3 separate regions of the Homo sapiens genome follow, and all the other regions are linked to region 2. Evidence: fine-mapped expression QTL. A gene starts in region 2. Each other region holds a variant in brackets. All regions are shown on one strand. Distances are from middle to middle. Region 1 overlaps LOC101928004 (a long non-coding RNA gene). Region 2 holds the start of LY86 (lymphocyte antigen 86). Region 3 overlaps LY86 (lymphocyte antigen 86).

Region 1 (4,277 bases), 160 kb after region 2:
TAACTGGGCAAAGCGATGAGAACACAAAAGCAAAAAGGAGAGGCTGTGTCCTCCTTCAGGTCTCATGGCCCTGGCAAGCAGGCAGCCGAGTCCCCGCAGGTGTTCACGCACGTGCAAATGCCTGCCGACTGCAGAGTACGGAGCCAAGAAGTGGCAGAGGATGGAGACCAGAGGCAAAGCAAGGATTCAGACCAATGGCCAGCCCTGTCGAGACCCAGGCTGGGAAGCCAACACCAAGTAGGAGGTTAAAGTACTGAAGCCAGTCACCGAGATAGAGTCAAGTAGGTTTGGAGTAGACGTTGAGGGCAGCACCTGCAAGATTCTTTCAGGTACAGAAAGGAGCCTGTGTTCTCCCCATAGTTGGGAAAGGAGTTATTAGAACTACTATTACTGATTGAGGAACTCTCGAGGCAATCTAAAACACCATCAACCTACCATTATTTGGTGTACCACTAAGTAACAAATCCTAAAGTATTATGACACACCACCAATGTTCCACGCATTTCAACTTCAGAAATGCTAATAAAAACCAGCGTGTATCTTACAATCAATGAAATACAGTAGTGGGGCATAAATACTTTGGTGAAATATTTGAAGGGAAAACGGATACTGACACTGAATTGCCAGAATAGATTAAATAACGTCACACTGGGACACACTTATCACGTTGGGAATCCTGGAAAACCATCGAAACAGGCAGGGCACAGCAAAAAGAATGAAATGGTGGTCTCTGGCTCAGCCATCCTAAGAGTGAAATTCATCAGTTAGGAACCCTTATTAACTTGGTGTCTATTCCTCCATTCTTTCAGTGTCTTCTTTCTCAAATCATATCTATAGGGGGAAAATGCATTATGAGCACCAAAATGTGAAAAAGTGCATTAGTTCTGTGAACTTCTGTACCTGTGATCCCTTTCCTCATACATGTATTGTCTCCTACCCACGGTTGGGTTGACTTCCACTGGAGTGACACACACATAAAGACACAATGTCAAAAATAAGTAGCTGTATTGTTCAACACCCATAAGCTTGGGCCTGGTGGATGAATGGCCGCAGGTGGGAAGTAGGCAATAGTTAGGTCTCCTTAGAGAGACAGGTATGGCAGAGCTACAAGTTGAAAACAAGATTAAGACCACCTGCATGGCGAGACTTAACACACAAAACTGATGAGCCATGAGGAATGCATGTTTTTAAACAGACTGCACCAGTACAAACCAGTCTATCCTACAGGGGCTAATGGCTGGAAAGCCACAAAAGGTCACTCCCCTAGCACCAGTAACATCAGCTAAGATGGAACACTGGCAGATCTACTACTAGCAGGATTAGAGAGAATAGTAGTTAGGCTAAGCATCACATGATCAGTCTGCCGGCCCCAGGCCTTCTACCCTAGTTTGTTCTCTAGGGTATCCTACCCACAGCACGGGCCACGCAGAACAGGGCTGAAGGATTATGGGTTTTCTTTACAATCCTCCCCAGCTGTCAGAAACTGCCCTTATGCCCGACAATAATCCTACATTAAATCACCCCAGCAAACCAAACCCTTATCTAGGCTGGACCACCCCAGACTTACCCTGTGTGTTAAACTTTGGAAAGCTTTTGGTTTCACTGATTTCAAGAATGAATCCATAAACCCTTGGGGTGAGTGTTACAGTTCTTAAAGACAATGTGTCCAAACTT[C/T]GTTCTTTCTGACGTTCAGACGTATTCAGAGTTTTTCTTCTAATAGTAGGTTCACGCTCTCACTGACTCAATAGCCAAGCCGCAGACCTTCATGGTGTGCGTTACAGCTCATAAAGGGAACATAGACCTAAACAGCAAACAACAACAAGATTTACCGCAGAACAAAAGAACAGAACTCGCACAATATAAACACACACCACAAAAGAAAACCGACCAGGTTATAATTGCTAGCGCGGCAGCCTGCTTTTATTCCCTTATCTGGCCCCACCCACGTCCTGCTGATTGGTCCATTTTACAGAGAGCCGATTGGTCCGTTTTGACAGGGTGCTGATTGGTGCGTTTACAAGCCCTGAGCTAGACACGAAAGTTCTCCACGTCCCCACTAGATTAGCTAGATACAGAGTGTGGATTGGTGTATTTACAAACCTTGAGCTAGATACAGAGTGCCAATTGGTGCATTCACAAACCCTGAGCTAGACACAGGGTGCTGATTGGTGTGTTTACAAACCTTGAGCTAGATACAGAGTGCTGATTGGTGTATTTACAATCCCGTAGCTAGACTAAACATTTTCCAAGTCCCCAGCAGATTCAGGAGCCCAGCAGGCTTCACTCAGTGGATCCCACACCGGGGCCGCAAGTGGAGCTGCCTGCCAGTGCCGCGCCCTGTGCCCGCACTCCTCAGCCCTTGGGTGGTCGATGGGACTGGGCGCCGTGGAGCAGGGAGCGGCGCTTGTCGGGGAGGCTTGGGCTATGCAGGAGCCCACGGCGGTGTGGGGGGAGGCTCAGGCATGGTGGGCTGCAGGTCCCGAGCCCTGCCCTGTGGGGAAGCAGCTAAGGCCCGGCGAGAAATCGAGCACAGCAGCTGCTGGCCCAGGCACTAAGCCGCTCAGTGCCCGGGGCTTGCGGGCCGGTCCGCCGCTCGGAGTGCGGGGCCGCGGAGCCCACGCCCACCCGGAACTTGCGCTGGCCCGCAAGCGCCGCGCGCAGCCCCGGTTCCCGCTCGCGCCTCTCCCTCCACACCTCCCCGCAAGCTGAGGGAGCCGGCTCCGGCCTCGGCCAGCCCAGAAAGGGGCTCCCACAGTGCAGCGGCGGGCTGAAGGGCTCCTCAAGCTCTGCCAGAGTGGGCGCCAAGGCCGGGGAGGCGCGGAGAGTGTGTAAGGGCGGCCAGGACGCTGTCACCTGTCAATTTCAGGGGCTTAGAGGAAGGCTTCACCTCCCCTGCAGCTGAATGAAAGCTGCCACGTCCCACTTACCCTCTGGGGTCGGATCTAGAGAGTCCCCGGGGCTGCTCTACCACACCATATTCCCTAGATCTTTCTGATCACTGCATGTCCCCTGCGAGGGGGTCTGCACATCTGCCTGCTGGGGGCTGGGAGTGACCGAGAGCCCCAGCTCCCAAACTAAGACCTAATCCTGAGTGTGCAGAATGGCAGGTCTCAGATGCAGAGCCACCGCTGGCACAGAGTAACATGGAAAATGCCTGGCCATGGCAAAAGTGCATTCTGCTCGGAGTATCTGGCAGGAATCGTAATCAGGGCAGAGGCAACTGCATTTGTGGGGAGAAAGTTTGGGGCGATGCAATGTCCTGAGCAGCTTCCTGACCCCCGTCATCGCCGTCCTTGCTTTGTGCCACCACCCTTGAAGATACCCCTTTTTGTGGTTCTGTGGGAGCTGCTGCAGATAAGGACGGGGTGTCGGTGTCTGTTTCTCCTCAGCCGCTCTCAGCGAGGTCACTGGGTGCCAGAAATGGAAACATAAATGGCAGCTGCTGTCCTGAAAGCAGGTGGCTGCTCTGACCGGGGAGGGAAATGGCTTGGGGACTTACTCATGCAGCCTGAGAGCCACAGAGTAGGAATAAGCATGCAACTGGTGTGTGTGGGCACGATTGTGTATGCCTATTTCTGCATGTAAGTTCCAGAGCTGTGAGCTCACACACACAGGCACACAGATACACACAGGAACACACAGACACATGCACATGCATGCACAGACACACACAGACACGCAGAGACATAGACATATACACACAGACACAGAGACATACACACATATAGACAGATGCACACATACAGACATACACACAGACATGCACAGACACAGACACACACATAAGCACACACAGACATACCCAGAGACACAGACACACGCACACACAGACACTGACACACACAAACACACGCAACACAGATACAAACACACAGAGATACAGAGGCACACATATATTTATATATACACAGACACACACATACACATGCTTACTCACATAGCACACACATACACAGAGACACATGAAGATACGCACATACCACACGTATGCAGTCACACATAACACATGCATCTCCCACCCCATTGGTGGTGTCCACAGGGCTGTCCGGAGAGCAAGCAATCAGTAAGTGTTTGTTGGATACTAAGTGAAGGATGAAATGACTGAATGCACCAGTAGGTGAAATGGATGCTTCTGCTTGCAGGGCAGGCTCTAAGATTTGAACAGCGGCATGGCAGAAGCATCGCCACAAGTGCTGATGAGGTGATGGCTTAAAATACTGCAAGCCCCATGCAGAGTGAAAACTCCTTTCACGGGAGGAGATAGACGGCCCAGGAAC
Region 2 (4,230 bases):
TGAACTAGACGGCCATAACTAATGATTTCAATCAAATCCCATTTTCAGTAGGCAGAACTAGTAAGTAGAATTCCTTAGAGAATGTGGCTTACTCTTAATCCTATATGGGTATGTTATATATGTGTTATATAAAATGCCATCTGTCATAAAACAAAACATTTTATTAAGAAGATTTTTTTTAATTGTACATTCTGCAAATGATCAAATTCTGTAAGCTAAACCAGAGGTCCTCAGAATGTGGCCCCAGATCAACAACACTGGCATCACCTGGGAACATGTTAGAAACACAGGTTCTCAGGCCTCACCAGACACACAGGAGCAGAAACTCTGGGGTGGGGTCCAGCAATCTGCATGTTAACAAGCCCCCCAGCTGACGCTGATGCCCTGAAGACCACTCTAGCCTGAAGACCAATGTCCTAGGGTCACCATGATCACAAGGTTCCTGATTGGTCCATTTGGAATATTTCTAAATGCTAGTGCGATCCCTGAATTATGATTCCTTTCATTTCCAGGTCTTTTGATTCTCAAGAATCTGTACCCCTGTCTTCAGATGACACTGTTTCTGCAATAAAGCCAATGTTTGTGGCCCTGCCCAAACTCATATGTTGAAATCCTAAGCCTCAAGGTGATGGTATTAGGAGGAAAGGCCTTTGGGAGGTGATTAGGTCATAAGAATGGAGCTCTCATACATGGGATTAGTGCCTTTATAAAAGAGGCCTAAGAGAAACCCTTCGCCCCTTCCACCATGTGAGGGCACAGCCAGAAGGCACCATTTGTGAACCAGAGGCCCCTCACCAGACACTGAATCTTCTAGCACCTTAATCTCCAACTTTGGACCTCCACCCTCCAAAATGGTGAGAAATAAATGCTTGTCATTTAAGCCACCCAGTCTAAGGTATTTGTTATGGCAGCCAGAACATACTAAGACCATTTCCCTGCCACAGCTGCCCACAGCTCTCTGCTAGGTTTTCTGCTCCCTGCCCTGCACTCCTGGACTCCTCCTCCAGTGTCAATCATGACGCACTTTGCAGGGAAGGAAGTTCTCACCCTCAATTGCTCTCCTCACTCACATATGTTCAGAGCTCTCTTTACAACTGCTGGAGCACTCACATATCCCAAGGGAAAGCTTCTGTGTTCCATCCTGGACCTTCTAGGGGCTACCACGCTTCCACCAGGGCCGCTGCTCTCACCATAAGCTTCAGACTCTCATCTCCCGAGATCTTGCTCACAGCGCAGCTGCCTTCCGCTCACACAGGCCAGAGGGGCCACCTTGTCTCTTCTTAGAGCAACTTCCCACCACTCCCTTGGGGCTCAACCTTCGCTTTATGTTCTGTAAAAGCCAGCAGTTCTCAAACTTGAGACTGCATCAGGCACACCTGGAGGGCTTGTGAAAATCCAGAATGGTGAGTCCCGCCCCCCAGAGTTTCTGATTTAATAGGTCTTGAGTAGCCCAGAATTTGCATCTCTAACAAGCCCCCAGTGGAAGCTGAGGCTGTCATCTTCCCAGGCCGCACTTTGAGAACTGCTGTTGAAAGCCATCATCACTGAACTTATTTGCAGAGGTACCTAAAAATAATCAATCCACAACTGTTCCTTCTCCAAATGACCACTCTCTGATGTCTATCAAGAAATCCAAATTATTTACCAATTAATTTATTGGTAATTATGTTCCACCTATTTCAAAAAAAGTTTTGAGCTAACTCTAATTTTTGCTTAGCCATCAGCAGAAATAGTAAATTTACCTAGTGCATTCAGAAAAATGCTGTTCCTCCCAGGGAAAATAGTGTTTTCTATTGCTCCTGAAATCTGCTGACCTTGGCACTGACTCTGGTCCTCTTACATTAAGGTGAAGCTGGGGCGGGGTTGAGGAATCAAGACTGAGAAACCTTGCTGTCCTGCAGCAGAATAGAGATACATGGAAGAAGGAAGACAGAATCTTGGCTTTGAAGAGAAAGTGAGATGTGATGTCAATGATCCCACTAACACCAAAACCAGCAAACCAGCCTCCTTAAGGGTGGCCCCACCTCCCCACCCTTCCTACTTTTTCTACCAAGCCAAACCCAGAAATAGAACACGGCTCACTTCTCAGGGCTATTGCCTCTGCCTCATCTCCAGAGACCACATCTGCAGCTCCCAAAACAAGGTCTGTTCTGCAGCTGGACAATTCACTGCTAAAATCCCAAACCTAAGAGCAGAGCCAAAGCCAGAGGAGAGGAAAGTGACAATAGGGCCAAAGCCTCATTCCAGATTCCAAATGTCATTCTGTAGCCCTCGTGCTATCAACTGCTGCCTGCTGGCTGCAGCCAGGTCCCTGGGTCCATACACAGCCTGCATCAAGAGCCTGCAGAGACTCGGGGGCTGGAGATGGGAAACAGATGGTGGCCTGCGCTTTGTCTTTCCCAAGTTTACAGCCTCACCTGGGGGTGGAGGCTGTTCTGAGGGGCCCCCAAGAGGTAAGTTCACGCATCACTACTGACCCTCTCCCTGTGAAAGCAGAAAGTCAGCACGCATCCTACCCCAGACCAGACCAGCCACACCTGTAGATTCAAGGTCCTGGGGGAACAGTATTCAAATGCCTCTGCTCTCAGCCTTTTACTTCTGACTGTGGTTCCCAGCGAGTCTAAAATTTGAGAAGTGAAACTGAACATCCAACTGCCTTGGTGAGGGGAGAGGAAGAAATTTTACAGGCTTTTTATTGGCCGGTTATTTTTCTGTGTGTCCCATACAGGCCCCCACCATGAAGGGTTTCACAGCCACTCTCTTCCTCTGGACTCTGATTTTTCCCAGCTGCAGTGGAGGCGGCGGTGGGAAAGCCTGGCCCACACACGTGGTCTGTAGCGACAGCGGCTTGGAAGTGCTCTACCAGAGTTGCGGTAAGCCCTTGCAGTACACCCATGTGTGTTTATGGGGAAAGCAAGGCCCACAGATGTGAGCCGCTAGTGCTCAGTTGGAGTTGGGGTGGGAGGGGAGAGGGGACCAGCAGCTGAACACTTTCTCCACCTGCAGCAGGTCTGGGAGGGCCACTGGGAGCTTTTGGAAGAAGGAGCGGTGGGGCCAGGACTGGGAGCGGAAGAGAATGGCAGAACAACAAAGAGTACAAGAAAGAGAAATTGAATCTAAATATAGCCATTTACTAACACCACAGAACCCAAAAAAGAACAAAATGATCAGTGAGTCTACCAAATCATCAAACCTCACCAGCTGAAAATTAGGAAAAGCAGCTTCCAGTAGGCCCTTCCTCAACACCGTACACCTGGGCTACCTTTCCATCTGATGTACTTTGCAAGTGAAGTGAAAAGATCACTTCTGCCCAAAGAGAAGATTCCTGTCCCTCTCTGGACACTTTCAGAGCTTTCACTGCAGCAGTAGCTCTCATGAATTCAGCAAGCACTTCGCATGCAGCTATCAATGCCAGGGTTTCTCAGTGCTAGAGATAATAAAAGTGCATATGCCAGGCCTGTCACCCCAGCGGGCCAACCCAATACGCCAACAGATAATTGCAATTCAGTGAAGAGAATGCAGTGAACTGTGGTAAGAAGTGTCAGAACCAACCAATCGGGCTGTGTCTTAGTCAGCTAGGGCTGCCATAACAAACCACCACAGGCTGGGGACTTAAATAACAGATTTATTTCCTCACAGCTCTGGAAGCTGGGCTGGTTTCTCCTGAGACCTCTCTTCTTTGCTTCTAGGTGGCATCTTCTCCCTGTCTCCTCATGTGCTCTTCCCTCTGTGTACATCTGTGTCCTCATCTCCTCTTCTTATAAGTACACAATCATATCAGATTAGGGCCCACCTCCATGGCCTCACTTTAGCTTAATCAGCTCTTTAAAGACCCTATCTCCAGCAGGGCATGATGGCTCACACCTGTAATCCCAGCACTTTGGGAGGCTGAGGAGGGTGAACCACTTGAGGTCAAGCATTCAAGACCAGCCTGACCAACATGGAAAAACCCTGTTTCTACTAAAAATATAAAATTAGCTGGGCATGGTGGCACGCGCCTGTAATCCCAGCTACTTGGGAGGCTGAGGCAGAATTGCTTGAACCCAGGAGGTGGAGGTTGCAGTGAGCCAAGATCGTGCCATTGTACTCCAGCCTGGGCAAGAGGAGCGAAACTCTGTCTTAAAAAAAAAAAAAAAAAAAAAAAAGACCCTATCTCCACATACAGTCACATTCTAAGATACCGTAGTCCCCCCCCAGTCTGCTAGGAATACGTTCCAAGACTCCCAGTGG
Region 3 (4,000 bases), 24 kb after region 2:
AACGTTTGCACTGGCAAGGAAGGGTGCTGGCCTCTATTTTTGTAGAAACAGGGTCTATGTTGCTCAGGCTGGTCGTGAACTCCTGGGCTCCAGCGATCCTCCTGCCCAGGCCTCCCAAAGTGTTGGAATTACACACATGAGCCACCACGCCCAGCCAGGATCTGTATGGTGGTGCTTATACGCAGTAACCCTGCATAGAACTACAAGAGCGAACACGTGCGTGCGTGTGAAAACCGCTAAAACCTGAGTACAGTCTGTAGAGTACACCAGTGTCAATGACTAGGTTTTGATACGTGGTTCTGTAAGATGTTACCATGAAGGGAAGTGGGTGAAAGTACACAGGGCACCTCTGTACTCTTTGTGTAGCTTCCTATGTCTATCATTATTTCAAGATAAAAAGATTTTATTTTAAAAAAATGGCCTGAAGCTCTTGAGCCTGAGGCTACGCATCTCCCTCTGCCTTTATGACCCACAGTGCAGGCCCTGAGCCCCCAGAGTCTGGGCTCCACTGCCCTGGCCTCTGGGGCATCTGAGAAGCCTGGTACAGGAAGGAAGCATGAAGCTTAAAATAGTGCTCAGTTCCTCCTTTTACAAGTGAAGAAACGGAAGCTTAGGGGGGGGCAAGGTGAGTGCTAGCTGATGCCCTGATTTACTGCCTGAGTTACATGGAAGCTTCTGTCCCTAGGAACATACCAAGACAGTCTGCCCTAAAATGGTCAAGCTAGAAGGCCAAAGCGAGGGAGGGCTGGGGTTTTGTTTTGTGGGGTGTGTGTGTGCATTCTCATGTGTGTATTTAAGGGCTGCAAAGGACATACTGGTTTTGATGTCACACTATGAGCACAAATGGTGTAGAAATTCTATTCCACAACATGAGCGATGTTCAGCAAAGTCAGTAAGAAGGTGAGCATGTCTGAGCTTACCTGCAAGATGAAGGCCTGTGATGACGGTGGAAACTCTTTCTGACCCCAGCAGCCACAGAAATTTGTATTTTGCCAAGGAAGGCTCCTTCTTTGAAAATATATAGGAAGAAGACAGAAGTCTACCTTTCTGATACCACTTTAAGCAATAGAGGAAAAGAAAATTATCTTGTTTTTCCACTGTCCTTCCAGGGGTGATTCTAGGACCGTTAAGATCTGGCCGTGTCTGAGCAAACACCAGCCACCTCCGACCTCCAGCCTTTCAAAGAAACAAGCTGGACTGTTTGCATTTATATGATTCAAAATGAAGGTCACAAAAGCACAACTGACTTGATTTTATGAAGAGCTTTTGTTGACAAACGTGAAGTTCCCAGAATACACAGTCTTTGGGACTTGAGTTTTTTTGTATATATTATTCTCTGTGCCTGAGTTGGTAGAAAAGAGCCTACATAACATAGGCTCCTACTCCAGCCCAGTACAAGGTTTTCAACCTGCACACTTTCCATAAACCCTCTCTGCCTCAGTTTTCCCAATTCTAAAACACGGATGATAGCATCTCTCTTAAGGCTTTTGTGAGGATTTCAGCTAATACATACGTAGGGCTCAGAACAGGACCTGCTGTGGAAAGAGCTATAGAAGTGATCACTGTTATTACACTCATCTGTAATTACTGCAAGTATTTGGAAATATATAGGAATATACTTAAGATGAATGGACACAAAACCGCCTCCACAGCTTCCAAGGCAAAGCGCTGCTACCTGTCCACCGTGTGGCAGTTCCTGTCACCCACACTGGTGCCTCCCTGTTCTCTCACCGCACCTTGTGGCTACGCTGCGCGCCGGTCGTGTTTGTCCCCCCTTTCTCCTGAAAGTCAGGGGCTATGCTTAAGACTAAATCACCTTTGTATCCCACATCTAGCACAGTGCCTATCAAACAGTACGGGCTCAAAAAGCTTTAACAATCGGACCGATAAAATAGCAGGGCTTTTGTCTCTCCTGTCAATCTAGCATCTCTCCTTCCATTTTTTCTGCACCTACCAAAAATAAGAAAAAAATCAGACTGCTGCTGTGTTCTGCCAGCTGCTCTTAACTTCCAGCACGTGTCCCAAGCAATCTACTTGAAAGG[A/G]TATCTACCCCCTTAACTGAGTACTGAACACTATGAAAATAATCTTTGTGGTCTCTTGTATTAGGAGAGAGCAAATTGAAGATGTTAAAAAGCCAATGTATTAGCAAGATTTGAGAAGATCCAAAAGCAAGCTGATTATTTCCAAAAATCAGCTCAACAACTCCTAAGATTGATAGATGTGTCCACAATTTGGGGGTTCTTGGTCTCACTGACTTCAAGAACGAAGCCACAGACCCTCACAGTTAAGTTCTTCAAGAGGGCGTGTCCAGAGTTTATTCCTTCTGATGTTCAGATGTGTTCTGAGTTTCTTTCTCGTGGGTTAGTGGCCTTGCTAACTTCAGGCGTGAAACTGCAGACCCTCGCAGTAAGCATTACACTTCTTAAGGTGATACATTTGGAGTGTTAATCATTTATTTTCCCCCAGTGGGTACCTAGTCTCACTGGCCTCATAAAAGAAACCGCAAACCTTCATGGGGAGTGTTACACTTCATAAAAGCAATGCAGACCCAAAGTGTAAACAACAAAAACACTTACTGCAAAAAGCAAAAGAACAAACCAACCACACAAAAGCAACGAAACAACCAGTTGTCACTAGTGGAGCCTGCAGCCTGACTTTATTCTCTTATCTGGCCCCTCCCACATCCTGCTGATTGGTCCATTTTACAGAGAGCCAATTGGTCTGTCTTACAGAGAGCTGATTGGTCCGTTTTGACAGGGTGCTGATTGGTCGCGTTTACAATCCCTGAGCTAGATGCAAAAGTTCTCCAGTTCCCCACTAGATTAGCTAGATACAGAGTGTTGATTGGTGTATTTACAAACCCTGAGCTAGACACAGAGTGCTGATTGGTGTGTTTACAAACCTTGAGCTAGATACAGAGTGCTGATTGGTGTATTTACATTCCCTTAGCTAGACATAAAGGTTCTCCAAGTCCTCACCAGCTTAACTAGATACAGAGTGCCAATTGGTGCATTCACAAACTCTGAGCTAGACACAGGGTGCTGATTGGTGTGTTAACAATCCTTGAGCTAGATACAGAGTGCTGATTGGTGTATTTACAATCCCTTGGCTAGACATAAAGCTTCTCCAAGTCCCCACCAGAGTAGCCAGATACAGAGTGTGGATTGGTGCATTCACAAACCCTGAGCTAGACACAGGGGGCTGATTGGTGTGTTTACAATCCCTTAGCTAGACATAAAGATTCTCCAAGTTCCCACCAGACTCAGGAGCCCAGCTGGCTTCACCCAGTGGATCCGGCACTAGGGCCGCAGGTGGAGCTGCCTGCCAATCCCGCGCCGTGCGCCCGCACTCCTCAGCCCTTGTGCAGTCTAGGGGACGGAGCGCTATGGAGCAGGGTGGCGCTGCTCGTCGGGGAGGCTTGGCCTGCTCATAAGCTCACAGCGGGGGAGTGGGGAGCGGGAGGAGACTTCAGGCATGGTGGGCTGCAGGTCCTGAGCCCTGCCGCGCCGGGAGGCAGCCAAGGCCCGGTGAGAAATCGAGCACAGCAGCTGCTGGCCCAGGTGCTAAGCTCCTCACTGCCCGGGGCTTGCTGTCAGGCCGGCCGCTCCGAGTGCGGGGCCCGCCGATCCCACGCCCACCGGGAACTCGCTCTGGCCCGCAAGCGCCGCGCGCCGCCCGGGTTCCCGCCTGCGCTTCCCCCTTCATATCTCCCCGCAAGCTGAGGGAGCCGGCTCCGGCCTTGGCCAGCCCAGAAAGGGGTTCCCACAGTGCAGCGGCGGGCTGAAGGGCTCCTCAAGCGCGGCCAGAGTGGGCGCCAAGGCCGAGGAGGCCCCAAGAGCGAGCGAGGGCTGCCAGCATGCTGTCACCTCTCAATAGGGCCCCTTACTTTCCCTGCCTGATGGTTTATCCGCCTTCCTTCAGTCACTCCTCGAACACTTAACCAGCTCCCACAGTGCAGTGTAAAGAGCGAAGCAAGGTGTTGCTAGAGTGGGGAATTCAG

The links. PIP is the estimated chance that this variant, and not a neighbour inherited with it, causes the effect.
Region 1: its variant is the best candidate, but not a certain one, in a credible set for the expression of LY86 in whole blood (TOPMed, PIP 0.85).
Region 3: its variant is the best candidate, but not a certain one, in a credible set for the expression of LY86 in whole blood (INTERVAL, PIP 0.61).

Annotation. Positions count from the first base shown.
Region 1 is chr6:6,743,370-6,747,646 of GRCh38, forward strand. The region is part of intron 2 of LOC101928004 (a long non-coding RNA gene); the gene reads right to left. Among named protein-coding and RNA genes, the nearest start is that of LY86-AS1, 120 kb to the left of the region's middle. The variant C/T (reference allele first, on the strand shown) is at 1,675.
Region 2 is chr6:6,585,998-6,590,227 of GRCh38, forward strand. LY86 (lymphocyte antigen 86) reads left to right here and starts at 2,723. Exons shown (of 5, transcript NM_004271.4): 1 at 2,723-2,873. The coding sequence starts at 2,738. All of the region lies in intron 1 of LY86-AS1 (LY86 antisense RNA 1), which reads right to left. RefSeq lists enhancers at 1,020-1,109, 1,120-1,249.
Region 3 is chr6:6,609,931-6,613,930 of GRCh38, forward strand. The region is part of intron 1 of LY86 (lymphocyte antigen 86); the gene reads left to right. The region is part of intron 1 of LY86-AS1 (LY86 antisense RNA 1); the gene reads right to left. Among named protein-coding and RNA genes, the nearest start is that of LY86-AS1, 11 kb to the right of the region's middle. The variant A/G (reference allele first, on the strand shown) is at 2,043.